Homo sapiens: one gene and its partners. The protein of the gene in region 5 purifies or fractionates together with the protein of the main gene of each other region. This does not show direct contact. Each region holds a gene or a part of one and is shown on either strand. Other genes may lie near its edges.

Region 1 (4,139 bases), on a different chromosome or scaffold from region 5:
TTGGGAGGCCGAGGCAGGTGATCACCTGAGGTCGGGAACTCGAGACTAGTCTGACCAACATGGAGAAACCCCCATCTCTACTAAAAATACAAAAAATTAGCCGGGCATGGTGGTAGGCGCCTGTAATCCCAGCTACTCAGGAGGCTGAGGCAGGAGAATCGCTTGAACGCGGGAGGCAGAGGTTGTGGTGAGCCAAGATCGCAGCATTGCACTCCAGCCTGAGCAACAAGAGTGAAACTCCGTCTCAAAAAAAAAAAAAAAAAAATTGGCATCTGGCCTAGAACTCAGACCATGCCTGGAATGAAAATGGAACACAGAACAGACATCAGCTGGGAGTGTTCTGGTGTTTAGAAGGAATCTAGAACATGGAGCAATGCAAGAGCACATGTGCGACAAGAAATGTGGCCCGGCCAGGCGCGATGGCCATGCCTGTAATCCCAGCACTTTTGGGAGCCAACAGAGAAGGATCCCTTGAGCCTAGGAGTTTCAGACCAGTCTGGGCAACATGGCGAAACCCCCATCTCTACAAAAAATAAATAAATAAATAAATAAATAAAATTTTTTTTTGAGACAGAGTTTCGCTCTTGTCGTTCAGGCTGGAGTGCAGTGGCACGATCTCAGCTCAATGCAACCTCCGCCTCCGGGGTTCAAACGACTCTCCTGCCTCAGCCTCCTGAGTAGCTGGGATTACAGGCATGTGCCACCACGCCTGGCTAATTTTGTATTTTTAGTAGAGACAGGGTTTCTCCATGTTGGCCAGGCTGGTCTCAAAATCCTGACCTCAGGTGATCCGCCCGCTTCAGCCTCCCAAAGTGCTGGGATTACCGGCATGAGCCACCGCGCCTGGCCAAAAAAATTTTTTTTTAATTAGCCAGGCCTGGTGGTGAGTGCTTGTGGTCCCAGCTACTCAGGCGGCTAAGGTGGGAAGATGACCTGAGCCTAGGAGGTGGAGGCTGCAGTGAGCTGTGATTGTGCCAGTGCACTCCAGCCTGGGCAACAGAGACCTTGTCTCAAAATAAATAAATAAATAAATAGAAAGAAAGAAATTTGTATGGCAGCAGGTAGCTTCTAGATCTCCTTATGAGCCCAGGCCACAGAATACATCTGGAGGAGGTGATGTGTGTTCGGCTCATTGGCCTGGGAGAGTGTACTTGGAGAAGGGGAACTCATCTGAGCCTCAGGGGGCAATGGAGTGCTAGAAACATCTCAACAAGCTGCATCTTAGGGGAAAGAGTAGAGAGTCCTGAAGCCCGCCACCTGGGGTGACATGAGGATGAGACAGGGGTTTGGTAGGGCCACAGGAGATGTGAAGTTGATGGGGCAGAGTGATGAGGCTGTGAAGACCTGGTTCCTAAAAGTGAGACCTGAGAAACTAGATACCTGCTGGGGAGGGCAGTGGACAGAGCTGGGAGCCTGGACTCCTGAATCCTTGTGGAGGTAAATGATGGGGGATTGGAAGGTGAGAGCCTGAGGTCTTGTTTGGAGAGAGGGTTGAGGCAGACAGCCTCAGTAAAAGCTGGTGGGCAGTACGGAAGCTGGGGTCTGAACTCCTGGGTCCCTGAGGGGATAGGAGACTGGGACCAAGACATTTAGGTCCCCAAGTGGGAGTGTGAACAGAAGTCAGAGAACTGCATTGAGAATCACATTCCGGGTCCCCCAAAGGAAAGGAGTCATGGCGCCTGAGTCCCTCGGGGAGCAGATGCTGGGTGCCAGGAGGCTAAGTCTGTGTGTCTGCAGGGCACAGCGGGGTTCTAAGCAGAGCAAACGCTGGGGAACAGGATTCCTAGGTGCTGACGGGGTGAGGGCTACCACCTGGGGCCAGCAGAGGTGTAGACACGGACAGGCTTCCCGAACGGGGTGGGAGCTGCATCCCCGGGTGCCATGGTCCCCACGGCGACCAGAATAGGAAAATTCAGAAGCCCTGGATCCTCAGGGAGCAGCTGGAGTCCCAGGAACCTGGGGTGCCGAGGACGGGGCCACGAGCCTGGCCGGCAGAACCCAGAGGCTGGGGCGCCCTGGTCGGGGAGGGCCCGGGTATTCCCGGGTCAAAGGCGCGGCGGGGGGATCCCCGCGCCGCCTGCGCCCCCTCCCTGGTGGCGGCGGCAGGAGGTGGGGGGAGGCGAGGCTGCCGAGCGCGCTGACCATGGACAGCTCCAGAGCGGGCCTGTGTCCAGGGCGGCCGCCGAGCCTGCCTGGACCGTGGGACGCAGCCGGCTGTGCAAGCCCGAGGCTGGCGACGGGAGACGGAGTGCGCGAAGCGGGGACGATGCGGACGCGTCTGGGGAGTCTGGCACCGCCGCGGCGGGTGTCTGGAGCTCCCAGGACAGGGTCAGGAAGGGGGATCTAGGCTCTAGGAGGGGTCCCGGGGCCGGACCGGGAAATCCAAGCTCCTGGGCCCTGGAGGAGGCGCGAGGCGGCGGTGCGCCCGGGATTCTAGGGTTCGGTCGGGGACTCTGGGCGCCGGGAGGGGCACGCCTGAGTCCCCGGGGTTGGGGTGTGAAATCTGGGCTCGGGGGTCCCCTGGGATGAGGAAGGGAATCCGGGATCTCGGGGAGGCGGGGGAGGCTCGCCAAGGGGTCCCCAGGGTGGGCGCTGCCAGGAGGGCCGGGCCGGGCTCTTACCTGCCTGGTCCGCGGCGGCTGCGGGCGGAGCTGGGCTGCAGGAGGGACGTGGGGTGGAGTGGGGGGGCCGGGCGGGGCCCCTGGCAGCGGCCGGGGCCCGGCTCTGTCGCTTCGGAGCCCTGGAGCCCTGTCTCCGACGCTCGCGCGGGCTCCGCGTCTCTGGCTCCGGCTTGGGCGCTGGGGACCCCCCTCCCCCTCACGCTCTCACTGCCTTCTACCCCCAAAATAGCCCCCTGCCCCTGTCACCGATCAGCCTCCCCCCGCGAGGCCGCAGCCGCCAGATCCAGGGGTGCCCACCAGCGCCCCCCAAATCCCACCTTCCCCCCAAAAAAATTCCTCCTCCCTCCCCCTCCCCCCCCACGGCTCCCGGGCGGTCGTGGCCCCTTTAACAGGAGACTGACAGACGGCGAAGAGCGGCCAATGGGAGAGAGCGTCGGCGCCGGCCGGCGACTAGACCCCGCCTCCACACCGGCCGGGAGGGGTCGCGCGGGCGGAGAGCGAGAGGCGGGGCATAAGGCGCGTCGACCAATAGGCACGCGGCGTGAGGCGGCTGGGGCGGGAGGCGGAGCCCGGCAGGGGGATGATGTCACCTGGAGCGAGTAGCGCGCGGCGTGGAACGCGAGTCGCGACCCCGGCTCCCGGCAGTGGCGCGCACTAGCCCTCGCGCCGCACGGGACACGAGGGCTGGGCGGGCAGCGGGATGAGGCTAAAGGTTGGATTTCAAGGCGGGGGCTGCTTCCGGAAAGACGCGCTGTGTTTGGAAGGTGGAGTGAGCGCCCGGTGGGCGAGGGCACCTCATTCTGCACCCCTGCGCCCGCCTCGGGAACTGCACGCGGCACCCCCACCCGCGACTCCCACGCAGACAGTAGTGCGGCCTGCAGGGTTCCCCCGGCGGACGAGGCTAATGGTTCGCTCCGCCCCGCCCACACAGAGGCCGCCCACTGGCTCCGGCTGCGTTTCAGGACTCTGGAGGAAGGGACTTGGCCTTCGCCCTCAGACGCTCTTAAGGGTAGGCAGCGTTGTCCTCAGTTCTGCCCCAGCACTCAGACCCAGACTGGGTCCCTGCCTCCGCCCTCCGCCCTCGGACTAGTCTCTTGGAAGCCGGCCTGTCTCCGCCTTCAGACCTAGGGAGAGGTCTTAACCTCTGTTCTCAGACTCTGGAAAAGGCTTCTCAACGGCTTGGCCTGACCTCAGCTCCTCGCATTCCCTCCACATCTCAAGACACCAACCCAGGGATGCAGGACAGACACACAGACACTCAGTGAGGGTCAAATATCTTTAAATAAAGTGCCAGGAACAATAAATACTGTACAGGAAGAGAGTGCACGTGAACGTCCAGATCTGTGGTTTCAACCTCGAGACTCCAAGGACCTGCAAGGGGGGTGGACAAGGGACCCGGGATCAGGGAGGCTCCGGGTAGACAAGAGGGGCAGGACTGGGGTTGCAGAGGCAAGGGCCCAGGTAAGTGGGCTGAGGGATCCCAGCCACAGTAGGTTCCGTATCTTGGGATGGAAGGAA
Region 2 (3,500 bases), on a different chromosome or scaffold from region 5:
CCAGCGGCCCCGCTGAGCCCCGGACATGGGGTCGCGCCTTCGGAAGGGGACCCAGCGGCCCCGCTGAGCCCCGGACATGGGGTCGCGCCTTCGGAAGGGGACCCAGCGGCCCCGCTGAGCCCCGGACATGGGGTCGCGCCTTCGGAAGGGGACCCAGCGGCCCCGCTGAGCCCCGGACATGGGGTCGCGCCTTCGGAAGGGGACCCAGCGGCCCCGCTGAGCCCCGGACATGGGGTCGCGCCTTCGGAAGGGGACCCAGCGGCCCCGCTGAGCCCCGGACATGGGGTCGCGCCTTCGGAAGGGGACCCAGCGGCCCCGCTGAGCCCCGGACATGGGGTCGCGCCTTCGGAAGGGGACCCAGCGGCCCCGCTGAGCCCCGGACATGGGGTCGCGCCTTCGGAAGGGGACCCAGCGGCCCCGCTGAGCCCCGGACATGGGGTCGCGCCTTCGGAAGGGGACCCAGCGGCCCCGCTGAGCCCCGGACATGGGGTCGCGCCTTCGGAAGGGGACCCAGCGGCCCCGCTGAGCCCCGGACATGGGGTCGCGCCTTCGGAAGGGGACCCAGCGGCCCCGCTGAGCCCCGGACATGGGGTCGCGCCTTCGGAAGGGGACCCAGCGGCCCCGCTGAGCCCCGGACATGGGGTCGCGCCTTCGGAAGGGGACCCAGCGGCCCCGCTGAGCCCCGGACATGGGGTCGCGCCTTCGGAAGGGGACCCAGCGGCCCCGCTGAGCCCCGGACATGGGGTCGCGCCTTCGGAAGGGGATCCAGTGGCCCCGCTGAGCCCCGGACATGGGGTCGCGCCTTCAGAAGGGGACCTAGTGGCCCCGCTAATCCTCGAACGGGTCTGGTCCTTGCTCTTGTGAATGAGACTGATGGACGGTGCCCGCAGCTCACTTCCTGGCCAGCACGTCTGGAATTCCGGTTTTGTTTCCTCACTTGCAACCATTAAAGTTCGCATGCAAAGCTGGAGACACATTTTGACATCTTGGTCAAGATGCCCCATGCCTTGAGGTTACCGGTCCTCATCCACCACCTGGTCTTAACGTTTCCTCTAAGGCCACCAGCAAAGTGGTCATGACCTTAGTCTTAGGTTGAACAATGTCATCTAAATGTACTCTATGAAAAATCAGTTTGTTCTGTAGCAAAGGTGTTTTCAATATTGGTGTGTGTGACATGGGATGCTCAACAAAACCAGGCTTTTATCCATCTTTTAAGGTTTCTAAACTCTATAGATGGTAGTTTTCCTTCTGGGCCATTTAATAAGATAATACAACAAGGCTGACCCCATGACATGAGCCCTTCTCAAGGGCAGATTTGGGCCCAAAGCATTACAGGCCTGAAGACTGTTAGACACGGCTGCGTGAAAAGCTCAAATTATCCTCTCTGAAACACTCAGGCCGAAAGTGCCTTCCAATGTCAATACATAGTGCGGAGACATTGGTGGGCCTTTGTTTCCTGTCTTATTCTCTGACAGCCCATAATAGCAGACATTAGATTTGGAGTATTTTTTAAAATCGAAACTGAAAAATATGTAAAGCCATCCAGCCATCTGAAGCAGTTGATTCAGCAACCCTCATGGCTGGATAAAACTTTATCCCAGCCGATGCCAGCTTGAAAAAAGCCGAATGAAACCCTACAGAGCATCTGCAGCCACACGCTGGGAGAAATCCTCCCAGGTGCCATCATCTACGTGGTGTGCGCGGCGCAGCGGGACGGGAGGGCTGCAGTGTGGTGTGAGCGGCGCAGCGGGATGGGCGGGTTGCCCCGTGGTGTGCGTGGCGCAGCGGGACGGGCGGGTTGCCCCGTGGTGTGCGCGGCGCAGCGGGACGGGCGGGTTGCCCCGTGGTGTGCGCCGTGCAGCGGGACGGGCGGGTTGCCCCGTGGTGTGCGCGGCGCAGCGGGATGGGCGGGTTGCCCCGTGGTGTGCGCGGCGCAGCGGGATGGGCGGGTTACCGAGGTGCAGCCAGCAGCCCAGACAGCTATGAGCACTCAGTGGACTTGGGCCCAAACACTGGGATCCAACTCCATCAGAAAAGCACATTATTAAAGGAATTCGTCCATTTTTCTGTATCTTAAAAAGACACTGCGGACACCAAAGACCTGGTATCTAAACACTTGACATATGCCTAATTTTAACTTAAAATGCAGTCTCCTATCCCAGATCCCTCTGATTTATTCTCGGATGTCAACATTCCCCTCCGCGCTGAGCTCAGCACGGAGGCTGTTGTGCGGTACCTACAGCAGGTGAATGGGCGGCTGCCGACCGCCCCGAGCCACGCCCCCAGGCCAGGCTCCTGAAGGAAAGGTGCGAGCCGGCTCATATCACAGCGCATTTTCTATCGTTGAATTAAAGGGAGTGCCGAAATCCTAAAAAATCTAAATTAAGATTTTTAAAATGTTTTTTCTTCAAAACTGGACAAAAGATCAGACAATAATACTTAGTGGCTTATAATGCTCTGACCTAAAATATACACACCACTATATACGCTCCCCGGCTCCCTCCAACCCCGCCAATCTACCAGCCACTCGGGAGCCACCTCAGTCATCAGACCCAGGGCAGCAGACAGTGCCTGTGTTCACGACACCCTTATCTGACTCAGTAGCAGCCCAAAGCACGGGCGGTGGGGCTCGCAATCTGGATACGCCAAAGAGAAGCCACAAAGTGCTTCCTTTAAATGACGAGCTGAAAGTTCTTGACGCAACAAGGAAAGAAAAAATCCTATGCTGAGGTTGTTGCTCAGATCTTCAGTAAGACCAAATCTTCTATCCATGCAATTATAAACAGTATATTGTTATCCTTGTTCTATACTATGATTGTTGCTAATCTCTTACTGTATCTAATTTATAAATTAAATGTATCACAGGTATGCTGTATAGGAAAAAACACAGGAAATACAGGGTTTGGTACAATCTGAATCCCCTGGTGGTCTTAGAATGCATCCCCTGAGGATAAGGGGAGACTAGCATACTCCAAACACACCCCCTCTCGCACTCCCCAGCTGTTTCGAGAGCAGAGGACAGGATCACATGGCCAGTAAGGTGTCTTGGGGCTGACACTTACATGGAATTCCGTGGTGTTGAGAATGTGGCGCCCGTCCGGGCTCCAGCACGAGGCCACCAGCCCGGCTGAGCCCTCGTCTATTTTGCAGTGCCATTCGGGCTGCTCTAAAGACCAGACCTGGATTGAGAGAAGAAAGAAACACACAAGTGCAAACTCATCAGCACCGAGAGACAGCGAGGACAGCTCGCTTAAACGCAGCGGAGACCCGACCGCACAGGGTGTCTTCAAACTCATCAGCAGTCTATAGCGAGGCCTCGCCGAGAGACAACTCCCTTAAAACCAGCAGAGACCCGATCACACAGGGTGTCTTTTAGAACCTTTCATGATGAAGGGCTGGTGCTGGATTCCAGTGTAAAAGTAAGCCACGCTTCTTGGTGATTTCATTTCGTTGTTGTTTTAAAACTGTTTATTCACATTGTCATTCCTAAGACCTCATTT
Region 3 (3,500 bases), on a different chromosome or scaffold from region 5:
TCTGATGATCTACTTCAGGTGTGTGAAGCGTGTCCCTCCTGAGGGTGGGAATACCCTTCCCACTTCAAGCATAAGGCTGAGCACCAGGGAAATGCCTGACAACTTGCTGAGGGAGAGACAAAGAGTACAAGGAGAAGGCAGCACTCCCAGACCCTGCACCACACCACCACCCTCATCACAAAAAAAAAGAATGCCAAGCAAAGCAATTGCCAAGATAAATCACTTTTATCTCTATAGGAAAGGGAGGATCTAAAAAAAATATAAATTACATTAGTAACACAACATAAGAAAAAGACAGGGACAAAAACAACAGAGAAGTCTGAATGATGCTACCCTAACCTATTTATAAAAAGGCCCTGCATCAGAAATTCACAATCCTACCCACTTCTAAAAATATATTTAGACATGTACAGAAGCGGTGGGCTTGTTTTTAAATTGTTTGCTTTTTTTGTAAAAATATATTAAAGGTGAATAGAAATCCTCTCTCCCTTCCCCCTGTCCAGCCCCCAGCTAGGGACTGGAGATCAGGGGTAACTATCTCATGGTGTTCTAAACCTTGATTACTAACACTCCCAACCCCTCCCCAACTCACTTCACTTAGAACCTGAAACATTAAAAAAAACAAAAACAAAGACATCAGCCTCTTTGGAAAAGCATAACTCTGAGGGTAAACTTGCTTTTCATTGGAAACAACACAAAACAACAAACAGGGGGCTCTAAGAACCCAACTAAGCTAAATGAAACCCAGTCAAACAGAGGCTGGGTTTCAGCTCCACAGAAAACTTCTAACAAAGAAATAGAGGGAAAAGGCCGGAATCGGGGGGATTTGCTAGCAATTAGCTGCCTTTGAAAGATCAAGAAGGGGTGTTAATGGACAAAAGGGCTGGGGACCTGATCTTGGTTACAGCAGTCACCGCATAGTCAGGCAGTTGCCTATACAGGACAGAGGCTTCTCCTGCTCTCCCCTCACTACCCTCTGCTGCCTTGAAATCCCCAAAATAAGCAAAGCTGGGCAGAAACAGAGGGGAGGGGAGTAGGGACTCACGTGCTAGGGGGGAGGTAGCCAGGCTTTTTGCCTTTGGTGTGACTAGATGGAGAACTGCTTGGCCCCTGGGGTCCCCAAGGTAGAGAAAGCAAATGGGCTAAAGGAACCCCTGATTCCAAGGAAGGAAAGTAGAGGCAGGGCTATGGAGAAAAGAAAGACAAACTGGAGATACAAAGATGACAAAAGAAGCCTCACAAATTCCCTGTGGCCTGCATGGTAGCTATTAAATTCCCCAGAAGCATTGGGCAAGCTGGGGTGAGGTTGGAGTGGGTGGTACAGGTGGAAAGGGCAAGGGTACACTCCACTTGGGTAGTGCCAAATGGAGGTGGGGGGATGTTCTCCATCGAGTCCAGATTGCCAGTGAGGCAAGGCGGTGGGAGGTGGGGGCACTGTCTGGACAATGGAGACAATCCACGAAGGAAGGACAGGGGAAGGGGAGGATCGGATGGATGGTCTGCTCCTTCACGGATGGGCGTCTCTTCTCTTCAACTTGGGCTCGTGAATGGCCTGTCTGCATTCTGCTTGAACGATGACCTGTCGTCTGGAAGTGCAAAGGCCCAGGAGTGAAGATGTGAGTCCTGAGGTCTTCTTCAGACCAAGACCTCAGGTGGAGAAAGAAGCATGAAAAGTTCCCGATGGAGGACCCAGGTGTGGGCCGTCCCGCCACACCCTCCATAATGTCCAGGCTGTGCTCTGTGGTATAGGCGGAGCAAGCAGGCTGTAGGGCCAGGGTTATCTGCGTCATTGGCAGGTGCTTTCAGGTTTCTGGGAGATGGTTTTCCACCTGCCAGGGCCCAGCCACAGCCACAGCCACAGCCACGTGGATAATGTTCTACATGATTTCAAAATCCAGGCAAATCCCTGGAGCTCACCCTAAAACAAGTGGCCTCATGTGTAGCCAGCTAAAAGTAGCTTCCTCCAACAGGCTACAAAACCGTGGTCAAAGGCTTGGGCATCTGACCTCTCCCTACCTTGACAAGTGATAGGAATCACCTTTCTTTTGAAAGGTAAGTGAAGTTGGCATTTCTAGGCCACTTCTGGAAATGGCCCACAGTGGGGCAGGAAGGAGGCTCTAGGCCTTCCTCTTCATTTCCATGAAGCATTTGGCAAGAGGGGGCAGAGACCACAGCCTTCTCCCATGAGCAAGTCTGGAGGTGGGGCATGTCCACTGGACTGGGGAAATGGGGCAAACAGAATGGGTGGAGGTGGGCAGGCTTCTGGATATAGGGCTAGAGTTGCAGAAAGTGTCAAGCACTGGGCTTCCCACTTCATGGCTCAGGCTCCTTCATACCTCTCCTCATCCTGCCTTCCAGCTCTAGCGGGGGATGAAGAATAAAGAACAGACAAGGCAGGTGACGGGAGTGGTTTGGACGAGTAGAAAAGAGGGTTCTAGTCAGCTGGAAACCTCTCCCATTTACCTGCTCCTCAGTGGAGAAGGCAGGCAGGATGCTCTAGTGAAAGTGGGGAAGGGAACTAGAAGGAGTCGGTGGAGGGGTCCGTGCCTTTGGTAAGTCCCAAGAAAGCAGGACAATGCACCTCAGCACCTTGTCCAGGGCAGATAGGATCCAGGAGTGCCCCAAGAGTTGACAATGGAGAAGGCAATGGGGGTAAAGGGGTGAGGGGTGGGACACAGGAGGGCTCACAGAAGTAGTTTGCCATTTCTGTGGATTTTCAGGATACGGCCGAGTCTCTGCTTTGCTGTGGCCAGGCCCTTTTTGGGACGCTTTCCTGTGGGGGAAGGGAAAAGTAAGCAAGGGCTTTGGCAAGGGCTTCAACATCAAATCTGGCACCAACTGCCCTCAGGCCACCTCCCCTTCCTGTTTCTCTACCCACAAAGTTTCTCCATCCTTAGACCATATTGGGCAGGAAGCCCTCCTTAACTACTTCCAACCAACACCACATGCTTTGACTCTTCCTCCTATGACCTCCTGTAGCAGCAAGACTCCCTGATTACAGTTTGTCTAGTTCTTTTTCTCCACTGATTACTCTGGTCCCAATCATTTTCCTTCCAAGATCCTGCAGGGAGGTAAATGTACTTCCATACCCTCTTATCCTACCCACCAGGACTGGACAAGTGCCTGGTTAGTGATTAGAGCTCAGTGTCCCTGAAGTTGCCATCCCTAGGGCCTTGCTTCATTAGAAACTCTCATCTTCATCAGCCTTCAACATCACACCAACCTCCATGCCCTTGAGCTGCGTACTCTAGGGACTGGGCTTTGAGGACCAAAGTGAGGGAAAGGAAGGCTTCAGTCCTCTAACTCTTTGTTGTCTCTGTCTCCCCACATTAAATCCCCTCCCATGTCCTATTTGACTGCCTCCATATTTGATCAGTTCATCTCCTTCCTCTCCATTCCCTCTGGCAGAGCCCCAGGTACTCTTCCTGCCTGCCTGAACTTGTATATGTGCCTCCTCCCTAGAGTTCCCATCTCTAGCCCACCCTCTACCTCCTTCTGGC
Region 4 (3,500 bases), on a different chromosome or scaffold from region 5:
TATGATATGAAATTTAGGATACAAATGATCCCATCATGCAGGTACTGAGCATAGTACCCAATAGTTTTTCAACCTCCCCCCAATAATCTCCAGTTTCTGTTGTTGCCATCTTTATGTCCATGAGTACCTAATGTTTAGCTCCTACTTTGGTCTCTGTGGTCTCTAAAGGTTCTGGTCCTTTCGCTTATATTCATCAAGTGATTTGACAGATTTCCTTAAACATCTTTACTCACCTTTTTCTTGATTCAGTGCTCACTTGGCTTTTATAACCTTTAACTATTGTTAAGAGTTTCCACAAAGTTGATTCTGACAGTGTTTGTTCATGATATGTGTTTATTTCTGTGGAGGGACATTTTTGCTGTCATCTCTGACAGAGTGGTTTTTTTTTAAGACTAGATTTTTAGGGGACGGGAGCAGTAGTATTCAATAAGATAGGCTATTATGCCTTATTCATAATGGTAAACTATTGTTATCAAATTGGCATCATTTATCCAGTGAGTAAAATCTACAGTATAGGAGGTTGTGGGCATACCATCCTTTCATCATGAAGAAGAAAGGAGCTTTGTTGAGGACAGGAGGTTATGGAGTGAGTTCAAAGTCCAACTCGGTACAGTTGGGTTAAGGAAAAAAAAGATGTGTCTATTATTAAATGTTGTAATACTTCATAGGTGGTGTTGAATTGTTCTTTTTGATGAAATTGTTTTAAAAGTAGTCATGACCTATATGTAAAAGTCCTTCATTATTAATCTCAAAATATGATTTCTAAATCTAGGTGTCCTTAGCTAACCTTGTGATTTTGAATAAGCTTCTTTTTTGGGCTTCCAGATACTTTATGGGTAAAACGTAATGGATTGTGCTTAGACTGAATGGCCTTTGAGGTATTTTCACCTATATTAATGTTTTATTTTTTATTTTTTCTATTAAAATAGCTCAGATAGGAGGGTGATGCAATAATGAATGGAAAAAGACAGCTGAAAGGAAATGCACAACTGATTTTGATGGTTGTTTAGAACTGTTCGCACTGCTATTTATCTCTGTGTTTCAAACTAATTTCATTACTTCAGTATATTGTCATAAAACTTTCAGTGTAATTAAAGCTAAAATAGCCTATAGTCACCACATTGCTCCATAGTAAACTATTTTTTAATGTTAAGCAAAAATGTTGCCATACTGTATATATAGTTTTGTGTCTTTTTTATACATTTAACAATATTTTTGCTGATAATTCCATGTCATTTTTAACATAAACCTACCTCTATATAGTATTCAATCATACTAAGGTATCATGGTTTATTTAAGCACTTTATCTTTGACAGAGGGTTAGGTTGTTTCTGTTCTTTGCTATTATAAACATAATACAGTTAACCTCCATGTGGTAGTTTATATTTCTAGGGCATATACTTAAAGGTGAAATTACTACACATATTTTTGGACCTACCTTGGAAGTAACCAGTACTTAAGAATTTCTTGTACTTCTTCCAGAAATGTTATTATAGTATGTAAGATATATATATATACACACACACACACATACTGTAATGACTAATGTGTAGCACTGTTTTTAAGTAGTAGAAGAGTAGACAACTAAACATTCAAAGGGGGATTGGTTTCATAAGTTATATATTTGTGTGTATATATATCTTACATATATATCTCTCTCTTACATATGTACACAATTATTTGTGAAACCAATCCCTCTTTGAATGTTGTTTTCTACTCTTCTACTACTTAAAAACAGTGCTATATGTTAATCATTTATAAATATGATTGTAATTTTGTAGGATAAATTTCTAGTAGTTGAACATCATGTGGAAAGGTATATACATTTATAATTTTGATGTATATTGTCAAATTGGTCTGCATGGAGGTTTTGCTAATACATTATCATATGTGTGTTAGAGGACCTGTTTTCCCACAGTCTTGACAATACATTATGTTGTCAAATATGATCATCCCCAATATGATACATGAAAAATGGTGTCATGCTATCGTTTTCATTTGAGTCTCTTGTTCTGAGTGGATTGAGCTTTGAGCTTTTGTTTTTTGTTTTTTCTTTTTTTGGAATGGAGTCTTGCTCTTTCGCCGAGGCTGGAGTGCAGTGGCGCAGTCTCAGCTCACTGCAACCTCCACCTCCCGGGTTCAAGTGATTCTCCTGCCTCAGCCTCCCCAGTAGCTGGGATTGCAGTTAGGCACCACGACGCCTGGCTACCTTTTGTATTTTTGGTAGAGACGGGGTTTCACCACGTTGGCCAGGCTGGTCACAAACGCCTGACCTTTTGATCTGCCCGCCTTGGCCACTCAAAGTGCTGGGATTACAGGTGTGAGCCACTGAGCCCGGCCTGTTAGTTCCTATTTTTCTATTGGGTTATTAGACTTTGTTTATGGTTGATTTTTGCCATGAGGAAAATTGTTTTTATGTGTATCTTATGACCTGAAATTTTGTTTTATTATTGGGCCTTTCCCGTTCTGAGTTTATTAAAGAATCTTCTATTGTTAAAATGGGCTCAATTCTAATGTACTTTTTTTTTATATAGGTCTAAGTATTTAGCTACGCCAGGTATGAAAGCCAGTTTCTGAGATTAACTTTTTATTACTTACTACTCAAGAGAGGATGACCTACCGTACTTCACCCTTAAAACATGACAAAATATAGGATAACAATAACAGATTTGTGTGTGCTCCTGTACACAATGTCTTATAGGACAACTGAAACAGAATAGCACCAGAGCTGGACTTTACCATTCAATTGCTCTATAGATTAGTTCAAATTTATGGTGTGGTTCCAAGAAAAACTCTTGATTAGAGTGAAAAGTACTCCTGTTAGGAATTCCTCTTTAGTAATTTGTTATAGACTTGTTTGGTTGTAAATAACATCTAGATCTATGGTTCTTTCTTTTTGGTGCCTCTGTAGTTCTGGTCATCTTTTTGGGACTAATTAATTTAGTTTCTTTTAACTTAGATCTAAAAGGTAGAATTTCATGAATCCAGTTACTTAAGTGTATTTTGCATAGTTAGCATTGCATTTTTTAGAAGATAAGGCAGTATAAAATTACTACTTTGCAACATGAAGTAATTTCTTTAGCATGATGACATTAAGGATAAGTTTTATCTCATTTTCCTTTTTTTATTATTTCAATTAAAGTCTTCAGTTTTTTTTCCTTTGAAAATATTTAATTTATCTTCAACTGTATTTACAATTAGTAGATATACAGGGATGGTTATTGGTTAACTGTAAACTTAAAGAGAATGGTATGTCTTTTTATTTAGATCCCAAGGAAGAAAAAGAGGAAGAAGACGATTCTGCCCTCCCTCAGGAAGTTTCCATTGCTGCATCTAGACCTAGCCGGGGCTGGCGTAGTAGTAGGACATCTGTTTCTCGCCATCGTGATACAGAGAACACCCGAAGCTCTCGGTCCAAGACCGGTTCATTGCAGCTCATTTGCAAGTCAGAACCAAATACAGACCAACTTGATTATGGTACAGTGCAACTAGAATATGGC
Region 5 (3,500 bases):
GAAGCAAAGAGAAAGGAGGATTAGGTTTTTTTTTTTTTTCAGAGACAGGATCTTGCTCTGTTGACCAGGCTGGAGTGCAGTGGTCTGATCACAGCTCACTGCAACCACAAACTCCTGGGCTCAAGTGATTATCCTGCCTCAGCCTCCAAAGTAGCTAGGTCTATAAGCACACACCACCACACTTGGCTAGGCTAATTTTTCAAAAAAATTTTTGTAGAGACAGGGTCTTACTGTGTTGCCCAGGCTGGTCTCAAACTCCTGGCCTCAAACAATCCCCCTGCCTCTGCCTCCCAAAGTGCTGAGATTACAGGGATGAGCCACTGTACCCATCCCCAGGAGAAGTAAGTTTTATCTACACTAGTAGTTCTCAACCCTGGCTATGTATAAGAATCACATAGGAAGTTTCTTAAAAATTCCAATGCCTAGGCTCCATCCCATACCAACTGAAACCAAATTTGTAAAGATAGGGTATTTTGTTTTTTAAAGCTTACCAAGTGAGTCTAATGAAGTGAGGATTGCAAACCATTGCTCTACACAAAGAAAGCCACATGCTTAATCAATAAATAGGTTAAGTCTCAGCTTGACAGATTAGGTATCTACAATTCTCACTGGACTCAAGAGTTTTCTCATCTGTCAATCGATTTTATTTCACATCACCCAAGTAAGAACAAGTACAGCAGGCAGAAAAAGTTCACAAATGTGAAAAACGAGACCAAGTAAGTTAAATCAGTGGTTGCCAAACATGTGTGCTCACCTACCACCTTGAAACTTTTTTTTTTTTTTTGAGACGGAGTCTCGCTCTGTCGCCCAGGCCGGACTGCGGACTACAGTGGCGCAATCTCGGCTCACTGCAAGCTCCGCTTCCCGGGTTCACGCCATTCTCCTGCCTCAGCCTCCCCAGTAGCTGGGACTACAGGCGCCCGCCACCGCGCCCGGCTAATTTTTTGTATTTTTAGTAGAGACGGGGTTTCACCTTGTTAGCCAGGATGGTCTCGATCTCCTGACCTCATGATCCACCCGCCTCGGCCTCCCAAAGTGCTGGGATTACAGGCGTGAGCCACCGCGCCCGGCCGAAACTTTTAAAAATTGAGACTTCCAAGCCAAAGCCCAGACATCCCTAACTGAATCTATGGGAGGTGAGGCTACACCTTTTTTTTTTTTTTTTTTTTTTCTAGGTGATGCTGTTGGCCTACTGGGCACAACTCTGTACTGCCACAGCCCCAGAAGTAGGGATACAAATGGCATGCTGACTGTCATACGGGGAGTCCAGAGGAGTCACAATGGACATAAAAGCCCTCTGATGTCAAATGTGATCTCTCAACTATGTCTCCATTCTCTGCCAACCTAAAATAAAATGGGCTGTTACCTACAATTTGGGCCCCTATCCATTGGAAGTAACTTCCAGCCTTTTCGACTGTGTGCGTGACAGGCCCTCCCAAGCTATAGGCTCGGATCCGAAGGCAGGTATGAGGGAGACAATTCCATCCCCAGTGAAGGAGAAGAATGAGAAGCAGCTTAGCTTATAAGGTTCCTGGGTTTCTGAGAGTCACTTCCCTGGCTGTCTTTTCTTCTTTTTTATTTTTATTTTTTTGTCTTTTCTCAAGATCAAGAAAAACTGTGGAAACCAACTATCTTTTATAGTCTGGCCTCTCTACTTGAGATGGGCCTGTAGATTCAGCCAGATGGGGTAAAAACCATGAGGTGGCTCAAAAGCCCAGGGTCTTTCCTTCTCTGCTATCACCTCACACCCCAACCTAACCTGCTCTAGAGTCTCTCCACGTGATGTTACAAGGTAGGCTGATATTTAACTGGTATGTACAATACGGCTGTATCAGGTGCAAAATACTGACATACTTAATTGGCTAATAAACAGCTGCTGGGCTGCAGCACCTGAAACTCCCCACAATCCAGCAACTAAATATCCACAACAGGGGCCTTTGGGAGCCCACTCCAATATAACAGCCAACATCTACTGAGATGGATAAATTTTAGTCTCTAGTGATTGTTAAATATTTTGAACATCATCCCTGCGTATACATGGAAGTGTGGCCCTTCCAAGCACTTTTGCTTGCCCACAAGTGTCAGATCTAAACTCAGAAAGAATACCCCCATTATGATATTTCAGCTTAGCCTTTGTCCCTCTTTACCCTCCAACCCCCTGCCTGCCTGTGACTATCTCTCACCTCTGTCCCCATCGTCTTCTGGCTCCTCCTGCAAGGCCTGCTCCAGCACAGCTGCATCCCCCTGGGGCCCTGCTGGCAGCTCCCCATTGGATACTGTCTTGTTGAGTGATGGTGGCTGTGGTGGTGGTGGCTGTGCCAGCTTCTGCCGAAGGGCATTGATCTCCCGGCGTAGCAGGCGGACACGACGGGTGCGGGCCCCACTGGACCGCATGGCGCTCACCAGGTCCAGTTTCTCCAGCAGCTCCTTCAGCTGCACCTCTGGGGACAAATGGGCCCGGTTCTCTGGGATGAGGATGTTGTCCACTGCCAGGGAGAAGGGAGGACAGAAGGGGCTGAAGGACCTGCCCAGCACAGGGCAAGAGAAAGGGGCCGAATCCTTCGGATGCAAAACTCTCTCTTGGAATGCCTGGGCCAGCAGCTTCCAGCAGCGTCACTGTGGGCCTTGGCCCTGCAACACCACTGCCCAGAAGGCAGCCACAGGGGCAAGGTCAGAATCTGGGAAACGTCTGCAGGAAGCAGTTCACAGTCACGATTATGGGCTCCATGGAGCAGGCATGAGGCAGCTTGGCAATACCCTGGCCTGAGTGACTGGCTGCTGCCATCGAGAAGCAGAGAGCAGGGACAGGCAGCGTGTGGGGCTCAGAGGCAATTCCATTTTTCTGGTCCTCCACCTGCAATCTTCTGAATGAGCCAAACACACACCAGCAATGCACTCTCCCTGTCCCATGCTCCAATGCCATACAGAGGGGATCCAAGAGAGGAAGACCTCTGATGAGGCTTTAAGCTTTTCAAACAGACCACTAGTACCTGATTCCCCTTTTCTACCACTTAAGAAGTGCAGAGTACATTAGTTAAACTTTAACCCTTAGAACTATTCTAGCCACAAAGGTATACCTCAGTCTGTGCTCACCCTCAGCTTTGCTCCTGGAGTCTACCTATAGCCCCAAGGACCACCCTGATCCCTCACTCTGTAGACTCTGTTCCTGTGCCTCCTCCTGGCCCCTCTCCTCCCCACCCATCCAGGCCTCTCACCGTCTTCCCAGGAGAAGCGGTAAAAGTCTTCCAATTTGGGTGACTCGGGCAGGTGAGTGCCCCTCTCGGGGTCATAGCCGATGTTCTCTGCCTGCCGCCGGGCGTGCCGTAGGATGGCCCCTCCCAGGTCCCGCAGGCGGACAGCTGCTCGGTGGAAAATTGTGTCTTTAGCATTATACTTCATGCAGTTGGTAACTATAAGGTTAAAGTCCTCCTCAAACTCCTCCAAGGTGCGGTACAGGTGGGACTCCAGCTTCCGCCTCATAGTAGAAAAATCCATTGGCT
Region 6 (3,500 bases), on a different chromosome or scaffold from region 5:
TTTTTTTTTTTTTTTGAGACGGAGTCTTGATCTGACACCTAGGCTGGAGTGCAGTGGCGCCATCGCAGCTCACTGCAACCTTTGCCTCCCAGGTTCAAGCAATTCTCTGCCTCAGCCTCCTGAGTAGCTGGGATTACAGGCGCCCACCACCACACCCGGCTAATTTTTTTATTTAGTACAGATGGGGTTTCACCATCTTGGCCAGGCTGGTCTTGAACTCCTGACATCGTGATCCACCCACATCGGCTTCCCAAAGTGCTGGGATTACAGGCGTGAGCCATCGCGCCTGGTCAACACTTGCTACTTCTTTCACTTATGGGAAGTAAAAGAAATCAGACACAAAAAGGCCACATATGTATTACAGGATTCCGTTAACAGAAAATGCCCAGAATACGCAAATCCTTATAGACAGAAAGTAAATGCTAAGCTCAGTGTCTGAATCTTGTAATCCCAGCACTTTGGGGGCCAATGCAAGAGGATCACTTGAGCTCAGGAGTTCCAGACCAGGCTAGGGAACATAGTGAGACTTCACTACTACAAAAAATTCCAAAATTTGCTGGGCATGGTGGCGCACACCTGTAATCCCATCTACTTGGGAGCTGGAGGCAGGAAGATCGCTTGAACCCAGGAGGTCGATGCTGCAGTGAGCCATGGTCGAGCCACTGCACTCCAGCCTGGGTGACAGAATCAAAACTCTTCTCAAAAAAAAAATTTAGATTAGTTACTGGAGGGATAAAAGAAAGGGAGAACAGTGAATGACTGCTAATGGATAAGAAGTTTCTTGTTGGGAATTTGGAAATGTTCTGGAGTTAAATAGCAGTGACAGATAGCTAGGGATAAGTAACGTGCCTGAAGTCTCAGCTACTCAGGAAGTTGAGGGGGAAAGATCACTTGACCACAAGAGTTCAAGGCCAGCCTAGGTAACACAGCAAGACCTCATCTCTAAAAAAACAAACAAAAGAAATTAACAAAAAAGTTTTCAAAAGATAGTAGTGATGGATGCACAAACTTGTGAAAATACTAGAAATTTATGAACACTTTAAAAAGGTGAATTTGGTGAGGCGCGGTGGCTCATGCCTGTAATCCCAACACTTTGGTAGGCCAAGATGGGAGGATCATTTGAGCCCAGGAGTTCAAGACCAGCCTGGGCAACACAGTGAGACCTCCACAGAAAATTTAAAAGTTAGCTGGGCATGGTGCCGTGCACCTCTGGTCCCAGCTACCTGGGAGGTTGAAGCAGGATCACATGAGCCCACTGAAGATCAAGGCTGCAGTGAGCTGTGATTGCGCCACTACACTCCTGCCTGGGCAACAGACTGTGGCCATGTCTCAAAAAAAATAAAATAAAAGGGTGAATTTTATGGTATGTGAATTATATCTCATTTTTTTTAATTAAAAAAACAAGTGAAAGGATTGCTCAACTCAATGTTCACTGCTCACTGAGAAGGCTAAGATTTGACAATGCCTTCATGGTCATACTCAGTTCCAAGAATCCCATCTACCAACTAATCACAGCAAAAAGACTTTTTTAAAAAAAGGGAGGACGGCCAGGTGCAGTGGCTCACACTTTGGGAGGCCAAGGCGGGCGGATCACTTAAGGTCAGGAGTTCAGAACCATCCTGGCCAACATGGTGAAACCCCATTGCTACTAAAAACACAAAAAAAAAGGCCGGGCGAGGTGACTCACACCTGTAATCCCAGCACTCTGGGAGGCCGAGGCAGGTGGATAACAAGGTCAGGAGTTTGAGACCAGCCTGGCCAACATGGTGAAACCCCGTCTCTACTAAAAATACAAAAATTAGCCAGACATGGTGGCACATGCCTGTAGTCCCAGCTACTTGGGAGGCTGAGGCAGGAGAATCGCTTGAACCTGGGAGGCAGAGGTTGCAGTGAGCCGAGATCGTGCCATTGCACTCCAACCTGGGTAACGAGCGAAACTCCGTCTAAAAAAAAAAAAACAAAAAATACAAAAAAAATTAGCCAGGCGTGGTGGCAGGTGCCTGTAATCCCAGCTACAGGGGAGTCTGGGGCAAGAGAATTACTTAAACTCGGGAGACAGAGGCTGCAGTGAGCCGAGATCACATCACTGCACTCCAGCCTAGGCAACAGAGAGAGGCTCCGTCTCAAAAGAAAAGGAGGGAGGGCACTTGTGGGAGGACATACATGTGCAAGTTGCAGTAAGTAGAATTTTCCCTTCACACCCAATCCATTGAAATCCAATCATCCCCATCTTCAAATATATTCCCAATACTACTATTTCTCCTCACCACCATCTCTCCCCAGGACTAGCTTGACAGCCTTCTGACTGATCTCCCTACTTCCACTCTTGTGTTCCCATGATCTGTTCGAACCCATGATGTGTTCACTACCCAGCAGTCAAACATTTTTGAAAATGTTTATCACATCACTTCACTCAACACCCTTCAAAGGGTTCCTAACACATTCAGATTTTACTCAAGTCCTTACCATGTCCTATAAGGCCCTACAATTGTACTGGCCCTTTGTGACCCTCTCTGACCTCCTCTCCTACCACTCCAGCCCTGATGGCCTTAATGTTCCTTAAATGTATCACACTCAAACATGCCAAGCACACTCCATCTCAGGGTATTTGCACTTGTTTTCTGCAGGGAATGCTCCTCCCCCAGAAACCTGAATGGCTCACTCTATCACTTGTTTCACAGCACACTTAAATGTCATCTCGAAAAGGCCCTCCATTATCACCTAATCTAAAGTAACCCACCCTCTGTCACTCTAACCTCTTATTCTGATTCCGTATCATTTCTCTTCAAAGCACTTAGCATTATTTTTTTTCTTAACGTGTGTCCACCATAGTAGAAAGTAAACTCCACGAGGGTAAGAACTCTTGTTCTATTCACTGCTGCATCCTCAAAACCCAGAACAATGTCCGGTACAAGGAAAGTACACAATGTGTTCAATGACTGAATTCACTGGCTGACTTGGCAAAAACATTCTTCAGTGACATAGGTACTCACCTAGTATTTTTTTTAATTACAATAAACAAAGATTTAGCAATTTGGACAGAAAACATGTTAGTATTTTACAAGATTACCTATTCATCTAAAGGACCACAAATTTATAGCACAAAATTTGCCATGTTATGGATCTTAAATCCCTTCAAATATCATAGATATGAGGTTAACATTCACACCAGATTAACCAAGCCTCTGACTTCATCCTACCTACTTACTCTTACATCTTAACTAGCAGGTCCAATGACAGCATGCTTCAAATGACAGTAACATCTATCTAATTTCCTAAGAAAAAAACCTCCATCTTCTTCCTACCCCAGGATGAGTTACTAGGTCCTGAATTCTACTTCTTTTAAGACAGACTCTTGCTCTGTCGCCCAGGCTGGAGTGCAGTGGCGTGATCTCGGCTCACTGCAAGCTCCGCCTCCCAGGTTCGCACCATTCTCCTGCCTCAGCGTCCTACAGGCGCCCGCTACCAAGCCTGGCTAATTTCTATTTTTTGTATTTTTT
Region 7 (3,500 bases), on a different chromosome or scaffold from region 5:
GGTTTCACTGTGTTGGCCGGGCTGGTCTCCAGCTCCTAACCGCGAGTGATCCGCCAGCCTCGGCCTCCGGAGGTGCCGGGATTGCAGACGGAGTCTCGTTCACTCGGTGCTCAATGTTGCCCAGGCTGGAGTGCAGTGTCGTGATCTCGGCTAGCTACAACCTCCACCTCCCAGCCGCCCGCCTTGGCCTCCCAAAGTGCCGAGATTACAGCCTCTGCCCGGCCGCCACCCCCTCTGGGAAGTGCGGAGTGTCTCTGCCTGGCCGCCCATTGTCTGGGATGTGAGGAGCCCCTCTGCCCGGCTGCCCAGTCTGGGAAGTGAGGAGCGCCTCTTCCTGGCCGCCATCCCATCTAGGAAGTGAGGAGTGTCTCTGCCCGGCTGCCCATCATCTGAGATGTGGGGAGCACCTCAGCCCCGCCGCCCCGTCTGGGATGTGAGGAGCGCCTCTGCCCGGCCGCGACCCAGTCTGGGAGGTGAGGAGCGTCTCTGCCCAGCCGCCCCGTCTGAGAAGTGAGGAGCCCCTCCGCCTGGCAGCCGCCCCGTCTGAGAAGTGAGGAGCCCCTCCGCCCGGCAGCCGCCCCGTCCGGGAGGGAGGTGGGGGGTCAGCCCCCTCCCGGCCAGCCGCGCCGTCCGGGAGGGAGGTGGGGGGTCAGCCCCCGCCCGGCCAGCCGCGCCTTCCGGGAGGGAGGTGGGGGATCAGTCCCCGCCCGGCCAGCCGCCCCGCCCGGGAGCGAGGTGGGGGGCGCCTCCGCCCGGCCGCTGTCCCGTCCGGGAGGTGGGGGGTCGCCTCTGCCCGGCCGCCCCGTCTGGGAGGTGAGGAGCCCCTCTGCCCGGCCACCACCCCGTCTGGGAGGTGTACCCAACAGCTCATTGAGAACGGGCCATGATGACGATGGCGGTTTTGTGGAATAGAAAAGGGGGAAAGGTGGGGAAAAGATAGAGAAATCAGATTGTTGCCGTGTCTGTGTAGAAAGAAGTAGACATGGGAGACTTCATTTTGTTCTGTACTAAGAAAAATTCTTCTGCCTTGGGATGCTGTTAATCTAAGACCTTACCCCCAACCCCGTGCTCTCTGAAATATGTGCTGTGTCCACTCAGGGTTAAATGGATTAAGGGCGGTGCAAGATGTGCTTTGTTAAACAGATGCTTGAAGGCAGCATGCTCCTTAAGAGTCATCACCACTCCCTAATCTCAAGTACCCAGGGACACAAACACTGCGGAAGGCCGCAGGGTCGTCTGCCTAGGAAAACCAGAGACCTTTGTTCACTTGTTTATCTGCTGACCTTCCCTCCACTATTGTCCTATGACCCTGCCAAATCCCCCTCTGCGAGAAACACCCAAGAATGATCAATAAAAAATTAAAAAAAAAAAAAAAAAAAGAAAACCAAGAAGATGGGAAAACCATGCAGAATTGATTTGACGAGGAAAGCCTTGGTCTCTAATACATGCAATGACTAGAACAGTATTTGGTCAAAGAACCACATAAGCTCTGTACCCTGGAGGAAATGTATGCAGGCAAGGACTAGTAAAATAAAAAATAATAATAATTAAAAAAAAAAAAAAGAAAGGCTGGACGCGGTGGCTCACACCTGTAATCCCAGCACTTTGGGAGGCTGAGGTGGGTGGATCACCTGAGGTCAGGAGTTTGAGACCAGCCTGGCCACTACGGTGAAACCCCATCTCTACTAAAAATACAAAAATTACCCGGGTGTGGTGGCGCATGCCTGTAATCCCAGCTACTGGGGAGTCTGAGGCAGGAGACTCGCTTGAACCTGGGAGGCAGAGGGTGCAGCGAGCCGAGTTCACCCCATTGCACTCCAGCCTGGGTGTCACAGTGAGACTCTGTCTCAAAAAAATAATAAATAAATAATTAAATCCACTTGCAGTGGTCAAAAATAAATGTTAAATAAATGGGTGAGAAATCTTGCGGAGAAATAGACTCCTGGCACTATAAAAATGATCCTGGAGAATAATTTGGCTAGACTTTGCAAGAATGACAAAAATGATTATAAGAATCAGTTGTCTCACTTTGGGGAATACATTCTGGGAAAATAATGTAAGAGAAAAAATATTTGCATACAGACATTTGAGGCTGCTCTGTATATTACAGGCAAGAACTGGAAACTGTTCGGCTGCAGGGTGACAGCTAACTAGATTGTGGTTTATTAGGGGAATGAGCCTTTCTTTGTGTATGACAACTATGAAAACTATTGAGAAGAAATAGTTACGTGATACAGTCATAATCCTCAAAAACGGAGAATCAGGAATTATGATCAAATAGTGATAGTAACAAGGAAAACATCTGTCTAAATAATTACTGAGTAGAAATAGGTTCGGAATTTGTAAATAGTCATTAATTTGGGAGATTGGGGTTTTTTTTGTTTTGTTTTTTGTTTGTTTTTCATTATTTTGTGCTATTATTCATACGTGTACATTTCTACTTCAGTTTTTATTATCCATTACATAACATACATGCTTGATTATTTGCTTCAAGGAAATACACCTTTATAAGTAATACTCAATAACTACTGGGTTTGAGAATGAAGGTGTCAGAACGAATGAGATTGTCCTATGAAAGAAGAGGCAGGAGCCAGGGAGGAGGATCCCACCCGGCCGGGGCTCAGCCAGGAGGCAGGGCCATTGGGGCAGGGTGGCAGTCCAAGGAACCGCTCTGGGAAGGTTTGCAAAGGTCGGGGTCCCCCCTGCCAGGTGATCGAATTATCGTGGAGTGTCTGGAAGGCGGGGGAAGTTTTGTTGAGTTCACCAAATAACTCAGACCAACTGGAAACCAAGTGGAGTTTCTACAGGACCAACTAGAATAGGGATCAGCTACATGGGGGCGGGGGGAGGGGGGCAGGGAACGGTGTCTGTCTTCATTGCAGCTCTGTCTGCAGAGCCAGCACTGTGATACCTCATAGTAGGTGCTCAGTGAATGTCTGTGAAGTGAATTACTATCTAGACAAGGATGAGACTGGTATGACTCTCCAAAGCTTTCCCACCTCCAAAACCTCGGCTTGTGGGGAATCTCCAGTAGGGGGCACTGTGGACACGGTTCGCATCTGCCTCCCAAGGCTGGGCTCCGCGTCAAAAAAAAAAAAAAAAAATGAGACTGAGCCAGGTGCAGTGGTCACTCCTGTTATCTCAGCACTTTGCGTGGCCAAGGCGGGAGGATGTCTTGAGGCCAGGAGTTCAAGACTAGGCTGGGCAACATAGCAAGACCCCATCTCTACAAAAAAATTTTTAAATTAGCCAGAGGTGGTGGCATGCACCCGTAGTCCCAGCTGCTCGGGAGGCTGAGGCAGAAGATTGCTCGAGCCCAGGAGTTCAAGGCTGCAGTGAGCTCTGATTGTGCCACTGCACTCCAGCCTGAGTGACAGAGCAAAACCTGGTTTCCTAAGGGGGGGATAAAAGAGGGAGAGATGAGATCGGGGTGTCCCGCTTCTGTGCATGTGGAGGGGGTAACTGGGAACCGTGTACTGTAGGGGATCGCACACCTTGGG

What was found.
Region 1: the proteins of BRPF3 (region 5) and PPFIA3 purify together in Homo sapiens (affinity purification with mass spectrometry, with the first as the bait; one large-scale study listed by BioGRID). This does not show direct contact.
Region 2: the proteins of BRPF3 (region 5) and WRAP73 purify together in Homo sapiens (affinity purification with mass spectrometry, with the first as the bait; one large-scale study listed by BioGRID). This does not show direct contact.
Region 3: the proteins of BRPF3 (region 5) and PHF8 purify together in Homo sapiens (affinity purification with mass spectrometry, with the first as the bait; one large-scale study listed by BioGRID). This does not show direct contact.
Region 4: the proteins of BRPF3 (region 5) and ZFP91 purify together in Homo sapiens (affinity purification with mass spectrometry, with the first as the bait; one large-scale study listed by BioGRID). This does not show direct contact.
Region 6: the proteins of BRPF3 (region 5) and ARID4B purify together in Homo sapiens (affinity purification with mass spectrometry, with the first as the bait; one large-scale study listed by BioGRID). This does not show direct contact.
Region 7: the proteins of BRPF3 (region 5) and TRIM56 purify together in Homo sapiens (affinity purification with mass spectrometry, with the first as the bait; one large-scale study listed by BioGRID). This does not show direct contact.

Annotation. Positions count from the first base shown.
Region 1 is NC_000019.10:49,118,205-49,122,343, reverse strand, and holds the start of PPFIA3 (liprin-alpha-3), read right to left. Parts: upstream 2,801-4,139; 5' UTR 2,622-2,800; intron 1-2,621. Other genes in the region: putative uncharacterized protein C19orf73, read left to right, coding at 3,322-3,711; LIN7B (protein lin-7 homolog B), read right to left, coding at 3,971-3,992. UniProt on the Homo sapiens protein: May regulate the disassembly of focal adhesions. May localize receptor-like tyrosine phosphatases type 2A at specific sites on the plasma membrane, possibly regulating their interaction with the extracellular environment and their association with substrates.
Region 2 is NC_000001.11:3,643,604-3,647,103, forward strand, and holds part of WRAP73 (WD repeat-containing protein WRAP73), read right to left. Parts: intron 3,180-3,500; coding exon 3,063-3,179; intron 1-3,062.
Region 3 is NC_000023.11:53,936,474-53,939,973, forward strand, and holds the end of PHF8 (histone lysine demethylase PHF8), read right to left. Parts: intron 2,774-3,500; coding exon 2,685-2,773; 3' UTR 1,587-2,684; coding exon of another isoform or gene 1,508-1,586; 3' UTR 207-1,507; downstream 1-206. UniProt on the Homo sapiens protein: Histone lysine demethylase with selectivity for the di- and monomethyl states that plays a key role cell cycle progression, rDNA transcription and brain development.
Region 4 is NC_000011.10:58,606,563-58,610,062, forward strand, and holds part of ZFP91 (E3 ubiquitin-protein ligase ZFP91), read left to right. Parts: intron 1-3,267; coding exon 3,268-3,477; intron 3,478-3,500. UniProt on the Homo sapiens protein: Atypical E3 ubiquitin-protein ligase that mediates 'Lys-63'-linked ubiquitination of MAP3K14/NIK, leading to stabilize and activate MAP3K14/NIK. It thereby acts as an activator of the non-canonical NF-kappa-B2/NFKB2 pathway.
Region 5 is NC_000006.12:36,210,244-36,213,743, reverse strand, and holds part of BRPF3 (bromodomain and PHD finger-containing protein 3), read right to left. Parts: coding exon 3,216-3,500; intron 2,487-3,215; coding exon 2,184-2,486; intron 1-2,183. UniProt on the Homo sapiens protein: Scaffold subunit of various histone acetyltransferase (HAT) complexes, such as the MOZ/MORF and HBO1 complexes, which have a histone H3 acetyltransferase activity.
Region 6 is NC_000001.11:235,318,180-235,321,679, forward strand, and holds part of ARID4B (AT-rich interactive domain-containing protein 4B), read right to left. Parts: intron 1-3,500. UniProt on the Homo sapiens protein: Acts as a transcriptional repressor. May function in the assembly and/or enzymatic activity of the Sin3A corepressor complex or in mediating interactions between the complex and other regulatory complexes.
Region 7 is NC_000007.14:101,091,981-101,095,480, forward strand, and holds part of TRIM56 (E3 ubiquitin-protein ligase TRIM56), read left to right. Parts: 3' UTR 1-3,500.